Homo sapiens: one gene and its partners. The protein of the gene in region 2 interacts with the protein of the main gene of each other region in a pairwise test. Each region holds a gene or a part of one and is shown on either strand. Other genes may lie near its edges.

Region 1 (7,173 bases), on a different chromosome or scaffold from region 2:
AGGAATTCTAGTTGACAGTTAAATGTGCAGACTTAGGAGCCAGATGCCAGGTATGAAGATCATGTTCACCACTTTCTTAGTTATGTGCGACCTTGGGCAAATTACATAACCTCTCCGGGCCTCAGTCTCTCCATCTGTACCAGGGGAATAATTATATTGGAATAGACTAGACCAAAGCAGCCCTGACATCTGGGAGCTGCCTGGTCCTATCAGCCAGGACTTGGTTGCTCAGAGCTGTCCAGCCTGGTGCAATTCGGTCTTGCTGTGCTGAACATAGACGATTTCACAGACATCAGCATAGAACAAGGCCATCCGCGACCAGGGCAGACTAAGACAAAAATGAAACTACTCCTTAATCATATCTGAACACAGACAAAACATGAATATTGTCAAATCACAGAAATGACCCAAATCCCCCTGTAGAGCTAAGCTGAGTGGAGGCTGCTGGTTTACCAGCTGTAGCTTCAGCCTTGCTCTAGTCTGCTTTCCTTCTAGGCAAGATGTATTAAGACTCCCAATCATAGTGTTAGCTCCACTTCCTGACAGCATCAACCCAGAACAAAGCCTCACTTCCTTAACCTCTCCCCAATCACCTAACACAACTCCAAACATTAGACTAAGTCCTTTCTAACGCCCCCTTCCTGGGACGCCCCATGATCCCCATGGTGCATGCTCTCCCTTGTTGCAACGAGTCATCAGCTCAGCTTGTTCACCCACACGTGTGTTTCTGGTGATCTCTGGTTGGAGGCATTGAAAGTTCCTACCTCATTGGGTTGTCGTGAGGAATATGTACTTGAAATGATACAATCCTAAGGCTCTTTCAATATGCTTGTCATACTTTATTATTATCCCCATTTCACAAGGAGGACACTGAAGCTCAGAGAGAGGGCCAGACTTTGCCCAAGGTCACACAGCTGGTAATGACAGAGAAAGGATGTAAATTCAGGCCTCATTCCAAAGCTAGTTTCCTGAATCCCTGCCTCCATGCTCCATGCTCATAGGGCAGAAACCAACAAGACAACTTGGGTTGGTGTTTGGAGAGGAGAAGAGCAAAGGGCCCTTGGAACTCAAAAGAGAGCCTCAGGCTGGAGAAGCAGGGTATCCAGGATGACCTGAGTGACCCTCTCCTCCTCCCCTCCCTTTCATGACTCCCCAACTGGATCCTCCAAGGGCTCCCTCCCAGACTGCCTGGCTGCTGAGTAATGCAGAGCCAGTCAGGCCCAGAGTAGGGGTCAGTGTCAGCAGAGTCGGAGGCCTGAGTCACTTCCTGACCCTTGCTCAAGAGCATCCGGAGCTACAGCCAGAGTGGCCACTCGTGCTCTCAGAAGATCGCACCCACTTGGGCGATGAGCATGTCCTTGGTATCCCCACCTTCCTGGGCTCACCTCTGCCCCACTCAGGTGTTTAAGACGTGCAGCAGAGAGGCGCCATCCTGACCTGGTGCCACATCCTAGCCCCTTTCCTTACTGGATCCTCAAACCAGAAGAAAACCTGAATCTCTGAGGTCAGTTACTCTCTTTTGCCTGCGTCTAGCCTAAAATCTGGCTTCCAGGACCCCACCCCAACTTCAGAATCAAGGTACCTTGCACTGGTGCCACTGATCCCAAAGGTCCAAAACTCCTGCAGCACTCACAGGCAAGCGACCCCGTTCCTTAGGCTCTCATGGGGTCTCAGGGCCAGAGTAGGGGGTGGGGGAGGGAAAAGGCTGGGGAAAATATCAGATACCCCAGGGCAGGATGGACTGAGGGAGACATGGTTGGATCAGTAGACATGTCCTTATGATGTGGGCAAGGCCATTTCCTTTGAGGAGCAATTCTGTCAACTCTAGGCCACCGCATAGCCTCGCAGCCAAGAGCAGGGACTCTAGAATCAGGCTGTACTTGCTTTCACCCAGCTCTGCCCTTACCAGCTGTGTTACCTTGGGCAAATTACTTAGCCTCTCTGTACCTCGGGTTCCTCATCTCTAAAATGAGGATAATCATATTACTGACTCACAGGCCTCTTACCAGGATTAAGTGAGTTATATAAAACACTTAATGACGGGCACATGGCAAACACAAGTGTGTATTAAATGACTCTTTTACATCTAATGGGCTGACTCCTCCATTCATTCTCCACACATTTGCTGTTATATTGCCATGTGCCAGAAATGAAAAAGACAGATTGCCTGACTGAAATAATGGCAGGTGTTGTTGTGTGATGATGGCACCCCACCCTCATCTCAGAATGATCTTCCAGGCTGTGCCTGAGGCTGCAGGACTGCCCGGGAGGGCTTGGGGCACAGAGTTTGGGGGCTGCAGACTCCCTAGTGTGGGCCCCCGGCTTGCTGTAAGCCCCTAGCAAATTTCTTTCCTTGTTCAATAGACCTTCTTTTTGACAAAGTGAAGCAGGTGGTCCCCGCCCCTTCCACAGCCCCATGCCTGGGCAAGAGAGGGGTTGGACAAGTCAGGCTGGGCATCCAGAGCCCTTGCAGCCATCTCCTCCCCCCACCTGCCCACCTTGCTCCTCAGAGGCCTTTGTGGTTTGAGCAAAGAATCTCCATCAGGCTGCACAGGCCACCAGACAGGTGGCAAGGGCCCCAATTAGTCATTGTCCTCATAGAGCCTTAGGAAGTCCACAGAAACTGTGTTCAAAACTGCACATTTGGGCCAGGTGCGGTGGCTCACTTCTGTAATCCAAACACTTTGGGAGGCTGAGGTGGGCGGACCACCTGAGGTCAGGAGTTGAAGACCAGCCTGGCCAACATGGTGAAACCCCGTCTCTACTAAAAATACAAAAATTAGCTAGGAGTGGTGGTGTGCACCTGTAGTCCCAGCTACTCAGGAGGCTGAGGCAAGAGAATTGCTTGAACCTGGGAGGCGGAGGTTGCAGTGAGCTGAGATGGCGCCACTGCACTCCAGCCTAGGCAATAGAGTGAGACTCCATGTCAAAAACAAACAAAAATCCTGCACATTTGAACCTGCGTGGATATTTGGTATTATAGAATTAGTGCTATTAATTTTAGGTTTAAGAATGTATTGTGGGCCAGGCGCGGTGGCTCACGCCTGTAATCCCAACACTTTCGGAGGCCGAGGCGGGTGGTTCACGAGGTCAGGAGTTCAAGACCAGCCTGGCCAAGATGGTGAAACCCCATCTCTATTAAAAATACAAAAATTAGCCGGGTTTGGTGGCAGGCACCTACAATCCTAGCTAATCGGGAGGCGGAGGCAGAGAATTGCTTGAACCCGGGAGGCGGAGGTTGCAGTGAGCCGAGATGGCAACTGCACTCCGACAGAGTCTCAAAAAATATATATATATAGTATTGTGGATACGTACTTTTAAAAATCCTTACGTTTTAGAGATACAAAAATATTTATGAATAAAATGATATGACGCCTGGGTTTTGCTTCAAAACGATGGTGGGAGAGGAATGTGGATGAAATAAAATTGATTATGAGTTGTGGTTGCTGGGGAATTGGGGTCACGGGGGTTCATTAGAACCTCCTATCAGATGTGGTTCAGAAGCCTCAGACCTGGGAGCTGGCTAGAAATGCAGAATCTCGGCTCCACCCCAAACCTACTGAGTCAGGATCTGTATTTTAATCAAATAAAATGCCCAGGGGATTCCTGAGCACACTGAAGTGTGAGAAGCGCTGGCTTACTCTGTTCAATTCTTTCCTGCATGTTTGACATTTTCCATAATGAAGAGGTTGTGGGGTTTTGTTCTGCTTTCCTGTGTGTTCACAGTCACAGGGAGCTCTTCCTACGGAGACCGGGGCTGGAGGGAACTGGGAAGCACTGCCTCCCCGCTCCTGCTTGGACCCACCAGCCCCGCCGCTGGCCCGCGCTCGGCTGGGAGGCACCGGGGTCCCGCTGGGCAGCCCCGACCCCGTGCCTGGGCCGCACCTGCCGCAGTGGCTCCGTCGGGCCGGGCGGAAGCGCGGGAGCGCAGGGCTGGACAGGCCCGGGCGTGGCGGCCCCGGCGCACCTGGGCGAGCCGGCAGGTGGGAGCGTAGCAGCCCGGGGCCCCCGCCCTCGCGCGGGGGAGGAGCGGGCGGCGCGGGGCGGGCGCAGCGGGGGTCGGGGCGCTGGGAGCCCGTTGGGCCGCGAACGCAGCCGCCACGCTGGGGCCGCCGAGATCGGGTGCCCGGGATGAGCCTCATCCGGAAAAAGGGCTTCTACAAGCAGGACGTCAACAAGACAGCCTGGGAGCTGCCCAAGACCTACGTGTCCCCGACGCACGTCGGCAGCGGGGCCTATGGCTCCGTGTGGTGAGACCCCTGGGCCGCTGGGGGGCGGGGGGCGGGCGCCAGGCTCTCCCCTTTCCGCCCAGCCCGCCCTGGGCTGGCCCCTCGCCAGCGCCACCTTGACCGCGGACCTCAAGGCCCAGCGCCCTCCCCGGGGCCACCCAGCGGCCATCTCCCTTTTCTCACCGAGTGGCTGAGTGAGGTCTCTGGGGGTTGAGTTGGGACTGGGCCTGGTTCTCCAGGACTGTACACTTGCAAGACCCCAGAGTTCATCGGGCAGATCCTCACTGTTACAGACGAGTACACCGAGGCCCCAAGAGGGGGAGGTGGCTCGCCAAGTTGCAGACAGAGTGAGACTCCCGCCCTGCCGTGGATCCCGTCGCAATGAGACGTTGCTGCCCCTGGCGCTGTGCCCCTCTCTCAGCTCCTGCCTGGCTTCCTACTCCCTGCCCTGCGTCCCGCGGCTCCCCCATATTCTAGGTGGTGGGCCTAGTCCCCTCTCAGCCCAGCTGCCCAGTGGGAGGGGTCAGGGCGGTCTGGGAGATACGGCCCAGGAGGAGAGCCTCGCCTGCTGACCGGCCTGTGCCCGACAGCTCGGCCATCGACAAGCGGTCAGGGGAGAAGGTGGCCATCAAGAAGCTGAGCCGACCCTTTCAGTCCGAGATCTTCGCCAAGCGCGCCTACCGGGAGCTGCTGCTGCTGAAGCACATGCAGCATGAGAACGTAGGTGGTGGCTGCCCCGGGGAGGGGGTGGGGGCTGCCCTGGGGAGTCAGGGGCAGGCGCAGGCGGGGCCTCCCGGTATGGAGAGCTCGGGACAGTCTCCTCCCTGCTCCCCTGACGGTGCCTCTCGCCTCACTATTGAAAGGAGGGGGTGCCGAGACCTTCCCTGCCCACTTTCCAGGAAGAGGTCAAAGGGTATTTTTGGCAGAATGCACTTTGTGAGGTACAGACTGTGTTATCCTACAGAGGAAATTGGCACAGGGGAACTTTGTAATTGGTTCCATGTCTGAGAGCTTGTGGCCAGCTGGGACTAGAATCCTAGTTAGCGTTGTGTCCACGTGACCCTGATAACAATAGCAATATACACATATTGAGCACTTCCTATGTTCTAAGAGCTCTGCATACACTAACTTGTCTAGTCCTCATGATATATGAGTACTACTGCCCCCATGTCACAGACAGGAAACTAAAGCACAGCAAGGCTCACAGATTAGATGGTTAGTCAGTAGCAGAGCTGGGGTTTCAATCTCGGCAGCGAGGCTCCCGGTCTGAGCACATGACCATCAGATTGTCTTGTCTGATAGAAGCAGCTGGGAAAACCAGGGGCCCAGCTCAGGGCCTGGCAGCCAGGCTTTGCTGCAGGATACCTAGATTGGAGGGCAGACATTTCAAAGAATGATTTCAAAATGTTATGTACATTTTAAGCCCATCCTTCTCCAGCAAACCCCTCCCCTATGGCCTCCAGCCAGGGTGATCTTGCCCTTGGCTCTGAACCAGCCCTGTGGCAGGCAAGGATGGATGTGGCTGGAGACCCAAGGTCAGGGGCAGGGAGTTTGCTGGCTGAAAAGCTCCTTCTCTGTTCCCTCCTTTTTCCCTTCCACCCTCCCCTTATGCTTTCCTGCTGCCTAGGTGAGTTGAGAGTGGGTTTGTGTTGCTTGCCCTGACACCAGACTTGACAGCAATGAGCACACATCATTCTCCCCACCTTCCCTTCTCCCCAGCCTGACTCTCTGTCATGATTTATTGCAAACTCCCTCCAAATCCAGGGGATTCCTCTAGGCCTCTGCCCTTTTTACTGCTTCCAAGAAGGTTGGAGACATGCCTCCTGCTGGAGGTGGTGTATTAGGAAAGGGTGGATGGCCCTGTGCATGGCCAGGGCCCAGGAGGAGGTGGGAGGAGAAGGTAGCGTCTGTCTAGCCCTCACAGGTGACTTCTTCCCCAGGTCATTGGGCTCCTGGATGTCTTCACCCCAGCCTCCTCCCTGCGCAACTTCTATGACTTGTGAGTTGGGCTGCACTGGGTTCTGGGGCATTTGCAGGCCTTACATGCCGCTGGGGAGCAAGGTGGGGGAGGGTCTAGGGTTTCTATTCCGGGTGTGGCGGGGAGAGCCTCCTTCCCTGGCAGTCCTGTGCCTTTGCCTGTCAAGTGTGATTCTCTCTGGAAAGATGCTTTTAGCCAAAGGCAGGCAGGAAGAGGCAGGAAGGACTTTGTGGGGTGCTTGCCTGGCAGGGGGCAGTCTGCACAGCTGCTTTGCTTTTTACCCAGCTTTAACACCATGAAGACACATCTGCCAGTCCTCACAGGGTTAGCACCAACTCACCTTTCCTGGGGACACAGATGTGAGTCTGGACCTTGGAGCTCTTTCTAGCATGAAGCAAGGATTAAGAAGCCTTGGCTGCCTCTGGCTGATGGGGGTGTTTGACAGAATGGCAGAAAACCAGAATATTTAGCTGCAAAATGTATAGCTTTGCCTGTGCAGTGTCTGAATGAGACTGGACTATTTGGACAAGATGGAGAAGTCAGTGTGGCACGTGGAGGCCAGCAGCTGGCTTGGTCAAGCTGAATCTGGACTGACCCTACAGGCAGCCTCAAGACCTGGGGACTTTGAGCCGGGAGGTGATATGTTCAGATGGGATTTGGGGGATGCACACTGGCAGCAGCAAGAAAGGAGTAGGAAGCAGCTCGGAGGCAGAGGGGGAGAGCCTGGAGGTCAGTGTTAGTGATCTAAAGTAGGGATCTAAAGCAGAGGTGATGGGATGCCAAGAGCAGACTTGAGGCCCCATTTGGGAGGCAGGGCCGACACAATGTTCCATCTGTTGGGGTGCAGTAGCTGAGTGAGGTGGCAGAGGTGGAGGAATGGGCAGGTTCCTGCTTGAAATACACGGTAGAGGAAGAACAGATCTTGGGGGAAAGATAACGAACTCCATTTTGGACACTTTACTTTTA
Region 2 (7,173 bases):
TGTCATTAATCTGTCACTTACTTTTGATTTAGAACATTCTGTGAATACCCCAATTCTGGAAATAAACATGTATTAAAGTTCTACCCTCTGTACAGGGGCACCTCAGGTCATGTTGTGGAGTAGGAAAAAGGAATAAATTGAGTGAAGGACTTTAGTACCTCTAAGAACTCATGTACTGGCCAGGTGCAGTGGCTCATGCCTGTAATCCCAGCACTTTGGGAGGCCAAGGTGGGCGGATCACTTCAAGTCAGGAGTTAGACACCATCCTGACCAACATGGAGAAACCCCATCTCTACAAAACATACAAAATTAGCCAGGCATGGTGGTGCATGCCTGTAATCCCAGCTACCCGGGAGGCTGAGGCAGGAGAATCGCTTGGACCTGGGAGGCAGAGGTTGTGGTGAGCCGAGATTTGCCATTGCACTCCAACCTGGGCAATAAGAGTGAAACTCCGTCAAAACAAAAAAAAAAAAAAAAAGAGGAATACAGGTAGAGGCACATAAGGATTCATATCATTCAGATAATTTAGGTAGGAGGACTCCCCAGTCATTGCGTCTCTCCCCTCTTCTCCAACTTTCAGAATCTAAGATCAGCAGAAGCAGCAGGCTGTGCAGCTCCAATACTACTCCCGTGACCCCTGCCCTCCCTGGGCCCCCGAGGTCACTCTCCCTTAACGCTTATCTCTTGTTCCTACTAGTTTTTCGTCTGCCTACACACAGAGGACACCTACCCTTCCTGTCTACTTCTGTTGCTCTGCTCCTTTCTGATTCATTGCTTCTGCTTCCCACCCGTACTGCAAAGCTTAGCCATTTAAGGAAGCCAGACTCCCCAGAACACTGCTTAAGTGCTTACAGTTATATTAAATAGAAAAATAAAAGAATCAATGAAGATGCTCAAAGAGGAACGTGTACTTTGCACATATCATAGTGGACTTGTCCTAGGAGAATCAGAACTCTAGCCGAACTCATGTAATCCTTAAAGCTCGTGCTGTGATTATTGATTAAAAGAGAACAGCTGAGACCTTTGACACTTCAGAGGCCAGTGGTCTGTGCAGTCAGTCTGGCTTCTCTAACAGGGAAAGGCATGTAAGGAAAAGGAAATGAGACAGCCTGGGACACAAGTTCAAGTATGAACAATACTATCACATGTTCCATAGTGCCTATCAAACAAGTGTATGTCGTCATATTAGTCGCCTCCTTAGCCTCTGGCCCTCCCATAATACTCAAAGCCATCTGGCTATCTGCTCTTATTTGCAAGTAATCAGGAAAAGTAAAGTAAGAGGGTTGATAATATGAGCTTTGTGAACCCCAACTATCTCCATGTGCTTCAGCTCTGACCAGGAGAGAGCAACGTGGGAGGTGAGGTCTATTCGAAGTTGCCAGACTTGACCAGTTAACAGTGCAACGGTTTGAAGAACAATGACTCTAGCCCTTTAGAGGTTAAAGGCTATTGGGTAGATGTGTAGGCGTCTGCTCAGATCACATTCATAATAAACTTGCAATTCCATGACTCCATTATGCTGTATGATTTGACCCAAGGCATCAGAATCAAAGAGACCCATCAGATGCCTGAGGCAGAGATCAAAACAGGCAAAGTAGAAAAAGGACTCTCTAAGAAATGAGTTATCATCATCAGAGCTCCTGGTTCTATATCCAGTTGATGCCAGGCTTTCCTTGCAAATGGGTAGTGAGAGGACAACTACAACAATGTAGACTCACCCACAACCCCTTCTGCTGCTCACCACCCAGCATCCATCTGTGAGGTTTCTGAGCAGTGAGCCATTTGAGGTTTTAAATTTCATTTTACGTACAATTTTATCACTGAGATTTTTTTTTCTAAAATAAAGAAGCATTTAATTTTTTTCTCTCTTCAGCTGTTAGCACATTTAAGTTAGTTCCTGCTTTTTTTGTTTAGGTGGTTTTTGTTCATGATGATTTTTCTTCTCTTGCTCATTGGGATATAAGTGGAATATATAATTTTTTTTTAATGTTAGGATTTGTTGTTGTGCAGAGAAAAAAGGTAAAGGTCAAATGATCAAAGGCATTTGTTGATGACCCAGAAGAACGTTCAGATTTAAGCATTATTACAAGAGATCGTCTAATGCTAAGCGTAATTTTACTTGACATGTGGCAATTAATGTGTCAAGCAAAATGCTGCTTACCATTACTAGTCATTACTTTATTGTGGAAAGACAGCAGTCCCTTGGTATCCGCATGGGATTTGTTCCAGAACCACCGCACCACATATCAAAATCCACGCATACTTACATCCCACATTTGGCTCTGCAGAACTTCCCTCTAGGAAAAGTTGGTCCTCCTCATCCTCAGGTTTTTGGATCCGGTGAACACGGTATTTTCAATACTCACTTGGTTGTGGATGCAGAACCCACAGATACCAAGGGCCAACTGTACTTATCGAAAAATATCCACATGTAAGTGGACCCACACAGTTCAAATTTGTGTTTCTCAAGGATTAGCTATATTTATTGCGTGCTTGAAAACCAAGCAGGTAGGATGGTATTGTAGACAAAGCACAGGCTCACTTTTTTTTTGTTGCTATTTTTATGATCTTCACTTAGTATAAGAGTTTCTGTCAAAAACTGCAGCCTCCAGTACCAGTAGCAAAGCATTTCTAAAAGGTTTTGACTAAGGTACTTAATCAGTGCATGGCCCGATGCACTACATGTATGAATTTCATCTTTACTACATTAGATTTCTACCAATTGTATATAAATAGCCTAGTATGCTTAGTTAGGACAATATGTTTAATATTGGGGATGATCCTAAGAAATTATAGATTTCTCAATATGGTATTCTAATTAAAACCTAATTAGCAATTCACTGTGCTAGAACTTGGATTTTTTTCACATAGAAATAATTTCACTACGCATAGAAAGTAAAGATGTATTTTTTGGAGACATTAGAATTTCAAAAATATAAGGCAGCACATGTGGAATGTAGAGGTGTTAAAAATCTTAAGTGTGGGTTTCTCTATAGCTCTAAGCTTGAACAGTTTTGTATAATCAGCGAGCTTGCCAAACAGTATCAAAAAACTCATTTTCTTCAAGTGCTTTATTTATCTTTAATAGAACCTTCATCACCCTGGTGTTGTAAATTTGGAGTGTATGTTTGAGACGCCTGAAAGAGTGTTTGTTGTTATGGAAAAACTCCATGGAGACATGCTGGAAATGATCTTGTCAAGTGAAAAGGGCAGGTTGCCAGAGCACATAACGAAGTTTTTAATTACTCAGGTAAGAAATCAATTAGAGACGGAAAAAATACAATATTTAATATCAAATGTTATCACTGTTTAACTACAGCTTTCTAGCCTTGTTGTTTAGTCCCTACCTCCAGTCTAAACTACACTAGAAAAGGTTGTAGTGGCTTTATTGTATTATGTGATTTATATCTATATTAATCAGAGTCCACAGTGTACCAAATTAGTAACATGTTTGCAGGTCCATGTATTCAAACTTTTCATGAAATTTTAAAATGTACATTGGTTTAGTTTTGGTTCTTTGAGAATATTTAAGAATGGGTGTCCCTGTTAGATATAGGTCTTTTATCTACATCTGTCTTGGCCGCTGTATGAATACCATCATATGGTAATTTTTTCATTGAAATTTCTTTAGAAACCTATGTTAATCTAGCTCATTTCAGTGTCTTTAACATAAAGAAATTTGAATGTCCATTGTCAGTTTTTTTTCTTGGCCTTTTAACTGGTAGAAGACATTTTGAAATTAATAAACTGGAATGAAATTTTGGTGATTCTTCTTTACAGATACTCGTGGCTTTGCGGCACCTTCATTTTAAAAATATCGTTCACTGTGACCTCAAACCAGAAAATGTGTTGCTAGCCTCAGCTGATCCTTTTCCTCAGGCAAGTATAAAAGCCTCTCTCAGCAAAAAGCCAGTTGGAAGCATTGCTAGCTTCCATGTAGCATCTTGTCACCTTCCATTTTTCCCTTAAAACCTTTATTTGTTTCAAGTGTTTTCTATCCATTTTTATTCATTTGTTACTTTGGGACTATGGCCTTGTTACTCTGGCCTTTTGGTGAAGCATGCCTTAATTATACACAAAAGTGCCTTCTCATTCTGCCTTTTGGCTTTTCCGGAAGTGGCCTGAGAGTGACAACACTTGAGAGTCCCAGAGATGTTACCTGCTCATTAATGGGCAAGATATTAAACCTCACTGTTGTTCTCAAGGACAAGGGCAAAACTTTTTTCCTTTCCTCAACTTAGAGAGTGGGAAACCAGCTATCTCCGCAGGGAATTATAGGTCTGAAGTGACTTGACTGATGTGACTGTCCTGCCTTGCTTCCCTAACACCTTCCGGTCCTGCCTATATATGTGCCAGTGCAGAGCTAATTTTGAGGATTATTGTGGATGACATGACACATCTCTGTACTTATCCTTCATCTTCTTCTCATAATAAGCGCTTGAGTGAAGGTCATCACTTCCCAGATTTGCATAACGCTTTCCTGCCTTGTATACAATATTACCCACTTCTGAGTACACTTGTCTTCATATTTGTCTCTCGGTTTTTGGAGGAGGGAGACTGTTTTTATTTTTTCATTTATTTTTATTTTATTTTATTTTATTTTATTTTATTTTATTTTATTTTATTTTATTTTAGACAGAGCACTCTGTTGCCCCAGGCTGGAGTGGAATGGTGCAGTCTCAGCTCACTGCAACCTCTGCCTCCCAGACTCAATCAATCCTCTCACCTCAGCCTCTCGAATAGCTGGGACTATAGCTGCACACCACTACGCCGGGCTAATTTTTTAATTTTTTGTAGAGATGGGGGTCTCACTATGTGCCTAGACTGGTCTTGAACTCCTGTCCTCAAGCAATCCTCCTGCCTCAGCCTCCCAAAATGTTAGAATTACAGGCATGAGCCACTGCACCCTGCCAAGGGAGACTGTTTAGATGATATTTTTATGAATGAAAACATACTTTTGTATCACTACATAAACCACTGTCTTCAAATACCTAAAATGGAAAATAGCTATTACTTTAAGAAATCCATATCATTTAATGTAAAGGTAAAGTATTTAAAATATTATGGTTGTATCTGGTGAATCTGAACTAAGACACACAGACACACAATTGTGAACGGAGTATTTCTGCAAATCCTTTCATCAACAGGTGAAACTTTGTGATTTTGGTTTTGCCCGGATCATTGGAGAGAAGTCTTTCCGGAGGTCAGTGGTGGGTACCCCCGCTTACCTGGCTCCTGAGGTCCTAAGGAACAAGGGCTACAATCGCTCTCTAGACATGTGGTCTGTTGGGGTCATCATCTATGTAAGCCTAAGCGGCACATTCCCATTTAATGAAGATGAAGACATACACGACCAAATTCAGAATGCAGCTTTCATGTATCCACCAAATCCCTGGAAGGAAATATCTCATGAAGGTAATATCTTCCATTCAAAAATGATAATAATCTAATCCTTATTTGTTTATGTTATTAATTTAAATTAATTTAATTGTAAATTATTAACTTAATACATGCTCATTGTAAAGTGCCCACCAGAGTGGAGACACAAAGACACGAATTAATTTGGGTGGGACACATACACATAACAGAAATTGGGTTATATATATTAAGAAGTAAGTGAACAACCAGAGAGAATGTATTTTGGTACATTTCATTAGAACTTATAAATACTTATACCTTAATATAATAGTAATAATGAATTATTAGTAAGGGCTTACTTATATGTGCCTAGTTCTGTGTTAAAAACTTTTAAACTATTATCAACACAAGAATGTTATGACATTGATATTTTAATGATCATATAACATATGTTAGTATACCAAGTTCTTTGTCTACTGGTTTTCTTTGTGTGGCATTAAAATATGTATAATATTTTACTTGGCCATTCCCCTGGAATTTTTAGGTTATTTCTCTATGTTTAGTATTAGAACATCCTGATGTATCATTCCTATATATATCTCTGATGATTTCTTTAGAATAGATTACCTTGACAGTGTTGCATTGTTTAGAGTTATATTCTTAATAAATATTTCCTTCCTCTTAAAGGACAAAAGATTGTTTAAAAGAAATTGCAGGGGCTGACAGGGCAGAGAAAGTGACTCATTCAGTACTTCGGAAAGGAGTTCCTCCTTTAACATACATTGGAGTGTATTTAATTCTCATAAAAATTCTATAAGATAGGTGTTACTATGATGGCTATATTTCAAGTGTGGATCACGAGGTCAGAGGTTCAAGATCAGCTTGGCCAATAGGGTGATACCCCATCTCTACTAAAAAATACAAAAATTAGCTGAGCGTGGTGGCACGTGCCTGTAGTCCCTGCTACTCAGGAGGCTGAGGCAGGAGAAGCGCTTGAACCAGGGAGGTGCAGGTTGCAATGAGCTGAGATTGCACCACTGCACTCTAGCCTGGGCAACAGAGTAAGACTCCATCTCAAAAAAAAAGAAGTGACACCACTGGTCAAAATACAAAGCTAGTAAGTAGCAGGGGCATAATTCTTACCCAGGTAGTCTGAACATACTTTTTTTCAGTACTAGCCCTACGTCTTTTCTAGTTTACAGGCAATATCTAGTTCTAGGTTCATTCTGTTTGTTCAGATGTTCACCATGTGAAAAGGCTAGTACATTTGTAAACATCTCTTATGTGATGCCTGTTACTGCATATGTTGGTATAGAAATGAGAAAAGAATGTACAAACCGCTTAGGAGAAATTAAGTTATTAGACTGCTATTGGTATTAAATGACAAGAGCTATCCATTATCAGAGCTTTAAGTTACCATTAGCAACAACCTTTAACATCCTCTAATTAGTTGTAAATCATAGGTGGATGGATATATCTTAAAGGAACCTGTGGCCTACAAAAGAGCTATCATGTGTGCCAAAGGAATAATTAAATATTTTTCATAATTCAACAAAGATGAAAAGTAAAGTGTAATTAAGTTTCTTTCCCAGGAGACAGAGAGAATTATCAAATAACCTTGTGACCAGTACCCTTGTTAGGAAACATTACATCTAAATACAGCTAACCATTATGCTTGATATTGCTCATCTAGAAATCCAGTAAAATAACTTGATCCTGTTATCAGAATGCAAATCCGTAATACCACTGAAGCCAATCAAACACTTTCCTGTTACACAGGAATTGGGTGTGGGGAAACAACCTTCATGTCTTTAA
Region 3 (5,595 bases), on a different chromosome or scaffold from region 2:
GTGGGAGGATCTCTTAAGCCCAGGAGGTCAAGGCTGCAGTGAGCCATGGTCACACCACTGCACTCCAGCCTGGCAACAGAGCTGAGACCCTGTCTTTAAAAAAAGAAAAGAAAAGAAAGGCGATGGGAGGGGAGGGAAGGAGAGGAGAGGAGGGGAAAGACCCTGCTACCTAGAAAACAACCTTTATTCCTGTAACCTTACCCCACCCACTGCGATTGTCCTGATTCTGCCCTTAGGACCACAGAAAGCAAGCCTAATTTCCTCTTTTCAACATGGTATAAACATGTAGGTATGAGTTCAAATCCTAGCTCTGCCACTTACAAGCTGCGTTATCCTGAACAGGTCCCATAACTCTTCAGGGCATCATCTGTAAAATGGAGATAACAGCACCTGCCTTGTAGGGCTATGTTAGGCTTTAAGATAAACTCATAGTGTTCTTAGCACAAATCTTGAATTACAGCAGGTGCTCAATATTATTCCCCATGACTACTATGGCAGATTAGACATGCTTGAAATTTGTTGACTCCTCCCTTCAAGACAGGGGGTCTTGTTCCCCTCCTCTTGAATCTGGGCAGGTTCTGTCACTGCTTGACCAATAGAATATGGTGCAAGCGACCTGTGCTAGTTTCAGGGTCCAGGGCTTAAGAGACTTGCAGCTACCACTTCCATCTCTTGAAACTCTCAACTGTATGACCTGACTCTAATTGCCCTGAGGCCACCATGCTGAAGAAGCCACATGTAGAGCTCTGGTCAACAGTTCCAGCTGAGCCCAGCCTCCAGCCATCCCTGCCAAAGTGCCAGATGTGTGACTGAAGCCATCTTAGATTCTCCAGACCAGCCCATCCACCAGCCGAACAGCACCAAGTGACCTCAGCTAATGAAACAAAAGAATCGCCCAAGTGAGCACTGCTCCAACTCCAGACCCACGAATCCAGGAAAGACAATAAGATGGTCATTGTTTTAAGCTCCTAAATTGTGGGTAATTGGTTGCATAGCTACAGATAACTGGGGCAACCATTGCCAAATATTTGAAGGTAACTGTTCACTTCCAGATTGAACCTGCCTACCTCTCTCAGCTGATGCTCACATGATAGGGTTTTGGGCCTTAGGACCCCTGTGATCAGCTGTCTTCTGGACAATGGGAGCCCAACAATGAACACAGCCTTCAGGGCAGAGGGGGGTTCTGCCCAACTATGCCAGTTAGGACTCTATCTGGAATAATTTAAGCAAAAAAGGAAATGATTGGCTCATAATGGCTTCAGGCATGGCTGGATCCAGGTGTTCCAAGATATTGTCAGGCTCCATTTCCTTTGTGATTATTTTATTTTTGGGCTCTTCTCACGGAGCCAAAAAGCTTTAGAAACTCACTCAGCTTCACATTCTCTCAGGTACAAGTCCAGATGGAAAGACTATCTGCCATTCTCCCAGCATTCCCAGCAAAAGTATCACTGATTCTCTTTGGTTGGTGGCTGTGTGGCCCAATCAGAGCCAATTACTGTGACTAGGTAGGTGGAATGGCCTAGGAGCTCACAGATGGGACATACGCCATCAAAACCATATGGACTGGTAATAAGGAGGGGTAGTTCTTCAAAGGAAAACCAAGGATATCATCACAGGGGAAGGACAAGTGGATGGCTGGGCAGCAGATCTATATATATCCACCCCTGCAGCTAAAAGGAGAATGAAAAACATAACCTCTCTCATTCTACATGGCATACCTCTCTTAATGCAGCCCAGGGTCACGTCATCACTTCACATTGATGACTCACAACAGATATTCAGGGGGATGTTTTTCCTTATCTAATATCGCTTGGTTTCACTCCCTCATCCTCTGCCAAGTCAGGGATGCAAACATGCACATGGGTCCTCCCTCTTCACCTCTGTCCCAAGCACAGTGAAGCTTCTGGGGGCATGGAGATGAACAGACTAGGCCTGTGGCCTGCTCCACCTTCCCTGAGTCATTATCCTTCTCTCCCCTCAGAGTCAAAGTGATTCAAAAGAGACAGCTCAGGCCCACAAGCAAGTTTTACCGCCAACATGGCTGGCACAAACCCAGGGCTAGAACCAATGCTTTAGGGCTAGAACCAATGCTTTTGAGGGCAAAATAAGCCCTTCTGTTTCTTCACAGAGTTGGATTGTTTGCCTTGAGTGCATAGGTGACCATCTGAGTTATTAGCAACCAGGGATTTGGTATATAATACTGTGCATACATAAATAACAACAACAAAATTGGTCCACTGCCCAGAGAGCTCTCGATCCACAGAGCTGCCAGACATCATGAGATTTCAAAAGATCTTGGCTCTAAAATCAGAGGATGTTTGGATATAAATTCTAGTACAACCCAGTCATTTGACAGATGAGTAAACCAGGGATCAGAAGAGTCCAGGCATGTAATTGCCCCAAGGTCACTGAGTAAGTGAGTGGCCGAGTGACCACTGAAATTTAGTCCATCTGAGAGCTCGCCCCCCTGCCCTGTGCGGTGTTTTTACAAGAGTGAGCACGCAGGTTCCAGGGTGGTCAAGAGGTGTTTACTTTCATTTTGTAGTCGGCCTTCATACAAGGTGGGGGCTGGGAAGGGAAGAGCAGTCCAGGCCATTACCCCCATGAATTCATTTGACAAATATTTATTAAGCGTCTACTGCAAACTTGGCCCGGTGCTGGAAGCTGAAGACACAATTCCAGAGGCAGACAATGACTGCCCTTGGCATTTCCAGTGGTCAGGGGTTGGTGAGGAGGGGCAGAGACACCAATCCAAGAGTCCCCGCAGTTTATACATACCACAGGCACGGAAAGCGCCAGGAGGGGAAAGAACAGGATGTTTACCAGCACCTTCCACAGGCAGCCACGGTCATGGGGGTCAGGACAGGGTCCCCAGAGGAAGTGACGATTCGGCTGAGCTAGAAAGACATTTCCACAGGAACTTACAGTAAGGGCTGCAAGGACAGCCTGTCCTCCCCCGCCCACCACCTCACTAAACTTTCACTGTGGCAATCGGCATTCCCTAAGCCTGCCAGGAAGCTTCCAGTAACCACTTCCTGACTCCTAGCATGACACACTTCGGGCCTTCCAAGGTTGACGATCTAAGGCCCTTACACAGCGCCAGACACGCGCAGGCAGGGAGGCAGGATGTGCCTCTCCAGACAGGAATGTGGACGCCACCTGGGCTCTTCCCCTCAGCCTCCACAGGGGAAGAATATTCTTGTGGGGTTTTTCCCTTCCAAATGTCTCAGGGCGATTCCAGTGTTCCCGCTAGTTCCTCCCTCCCAGGCTAGAACACAAATCCTTCCCACTCCCTGCCTGGCAAACACCTTCTGACCCTCAGGCCCAAGGCAATGGCCCACCTCCTCCCAGGCTGGATGGGGTCTCCTCCTCTCTGTTCCCCCAGCCCCTGAGCTTCCTGAGGACCAAGCTTGTGGCTTCTTCTCCTTACTCTTCCTCCTTGGTGTCTCTATGTTAGAGGGCCGTTAGCATCTGCTGGGGCCTGGTCGCATTCACCCTGCTCTGCCACTCACTGGCTGTGTGACTCTGGACAAATTAACTTCTCTGGACCTGCAGTTTCTCCTCTCTACAATGAGAATACTGGAGAGTCCTTATCTTATGGGTTGCTACAGAATTAAGTGACATCTCACACACAACACACTTCCTACAGTCCCTGTTACACGCTAAAAGTACTCAACATGCAACGGATACGTCATCAGTAACCACCCCACGGGTTTACTGTGATGCTGCACAATTATTAAGCCTTGGCTGCTACAGAGTTGTAACCTGTCTGCACTTCCAACCGGTTTGGGAATGCAAGCAGCATTCCCAAGTCCCGCTTTCACCCGCGCGCTAACGGCTCAGGTTCGAGTACAGGACAGGAGGGAGGGGAGCTGTGCACACGGCGGAGGCGCACGGCGTGGGCACCCAGCACCCGGTACACTGTGTCCTCCCGCTGCACCCAGCCCCTTCCGCGCCGAGGCGTCCCCGAGGCGCAAGTGGGCCGCCTTCAGGGAACTGACCGCCCGCGGCCCGTGTGCAGAGCCGGGTGCGCCCGGCCCAGTGCGCGCGGCCGGGTGTTTCGCCTGGAGCCGCAAGTGACTCAGCGCGGGGCGTGTGCAGGCAGCGCCCGGCCGGGGCGGGGCTTTTGCACTCGTCCCGGCTCTTTCTAGCTATAAACACTGCTTGCCGCGCTGCACTCCACCACGCCTCCTCCAAGTCCCAGCGAACCCGCGTGCAACCTGTCCCGACTCTAGCCGCCTCTTCAGCTCGCCATGGATCCCAACTGCTCCTGCGCCGCCGGTAAGAGGCTGGGGATGCCCAGTGTAGACTGTAGCGCTAGAGAAGCAATTTCTGACCCCTCTTTCTTTCTCTGGTCACTCAATTTCAGGACAGGAGTTGCTCCTTCCCAAAGAGTTTTGGGGTATCTTTCTCTCCATTCTAGGTTATTCGGAGCCCCCTTTTTACCGTTAAGGAGATCTGAGTTAATGGCTTGCTCAAGTTCCCAGGAATCGGTTGTGGACTGAGGAACTCGGCCCCGGGCTCTTAGTACGCCGTCCCTTGTTCAGGTATCCAGGGACGGTTCTCACCTCTGTCTTTTCTCCTTGCAGGTGACTCCTGCACCTGCGCCGGCTCCTGCAAATGCAAAGAGTGCAAATGCACCTCCTGCAAGAAAAGTAAGTGGGATCCTCTCTTTCCTCTACCCCTTCCCTGTCCTCCAGCCTGTCCCCTCTCCACCATCCTCAGGGGAATTAAAGCAGTCTGGGGATGCCCCATTGCGCGGAAATTGTTGCCTCCTCAGTGATCCTTATCAGGGAGAGCAGGAATCCTTATTCCCGGTGTCGCTAGTACTCATCTCTGCCGCCTCCTGTCTGCCCCCAGGCTGCTGCTCCTGCTGCCCTGTGGGCTGTGCCAAGTGTGCCCAGGGCTGCATCTGCAAAGGGGCGTCGGACAAGTGCAGCTGCTGCGCCTGATGCTGGGACAGCCCCGCTCCCAGATGTAAAGAACGCGACTTCCACAAACCTGGATTTTTTATGTACAACCCTGACCGTGACCGTTTGCTATATTCCTTTTTCTATGAAATAATGTGAATGATAATAAAACAGCTTTGACTTGATTCTGTCTCTGGTTTCCTTTATATGCCTTAAAAATAACGGACTGGGGTGAGGGATTGAACTGGGAGGGCAGAGACCTGGGCTGTGGATGGAAATGTGAGCCGTTAAGAAAGAGTGCATTCTGGCAAGCCAGGCTACTGCACTGAGCTTCAGCTTCTGTAAAACTGAATGGCGCTGTGCCAGATCATATGGGAGCAGGAGGGACACATACATGATCACTTTCAGTTTCACGTCAAATGTGGCACAGAAACTTCTCCATTCCTCACTTTTACTTTCAATTTCCCTGCCCAACTTCAGTTCTTCGTGGGATTTTAGACTTGAAAGTGACTACAGAGGGTGAAATCCAACTCCCCAGTGGCTGGAATCTGACATCCGGTTTCCCAAACTCCCTGTGGGGAATGACCAGTTTTGTTTTGTTTTGTTTTGTTCTCCATTAGTCACAGACCTAAACTCTGGTAAAATAAGGAGTTAATAAGAAAATGAAAGTTTAAAAGACACAAAA

The links.
Region 1: the proteins of PRKD1 (region 2) and MAPK13 interact in binary tests that used the Homo sapiens proteins (3 or more experiments, as listed by UniProt).
Region 3: the proteins of PRKD1 (region 2) and MT2A interact in binary tests that used the Homo sapiens proteins (3 or more experiments, as listed by UniProt).

What each region holds. Positions count from the first base shown.
Region 1 is NC_000006.12:36,126,452-36,133,624, forward strand, and holds the start of MAPK13 (mitogen-activated protein kinase 13), read left to right. Parts: upstream 1-4,061; 5' UTR 4,062-4,131; coding exon 4,132-4,250; intron 4,251-4,819; coding exon 4,820-4,949; intron 4,950-6,169; coding exon 6,170-6,228; intron 6,229-7,173. UniProt on the Homo sapiens protein: Serine/threonine kinase which acts as an essential component of the MAP kinase signal transduction pathway.
Region 2 is NC_000014.9:29,595,733-29,602,905, reverse strand, and holds part of PRKD1 (serine/threonine-protein kinase D1), read left to right. Parts: intron 1-3,088; coding exon 3,089-3,250; intron 3,251-3,780; coding exon 3,781-3,879; intron 3,880-5,147; coding exon 5,148-5,415; intron 5,416-5,429; exon of another isoform or gene 5,430-7,173.
Region 3 is NC_000016.10:56,604,403-56,609,997, forward strand, and holds MT2A (metallothionein-2), read left to right. Parts: upstream 1-4,181; 5' UTR 4,182-4,253; coding exon 4,254-4,281; intron 4,282-4,589; coding exon 4,590-4,655; intron 4,656-4,860; coding exon 4,861-4,952; 3' UTR 4,953-5,095; downstream 5,096-5,595. UniProt on the Homo sapiens protein: Metallothioneins have a high content of cysteine residues that bind various heavy metals; these proteins are transcriptionally regulated by both heavy metals and glucocorticoids.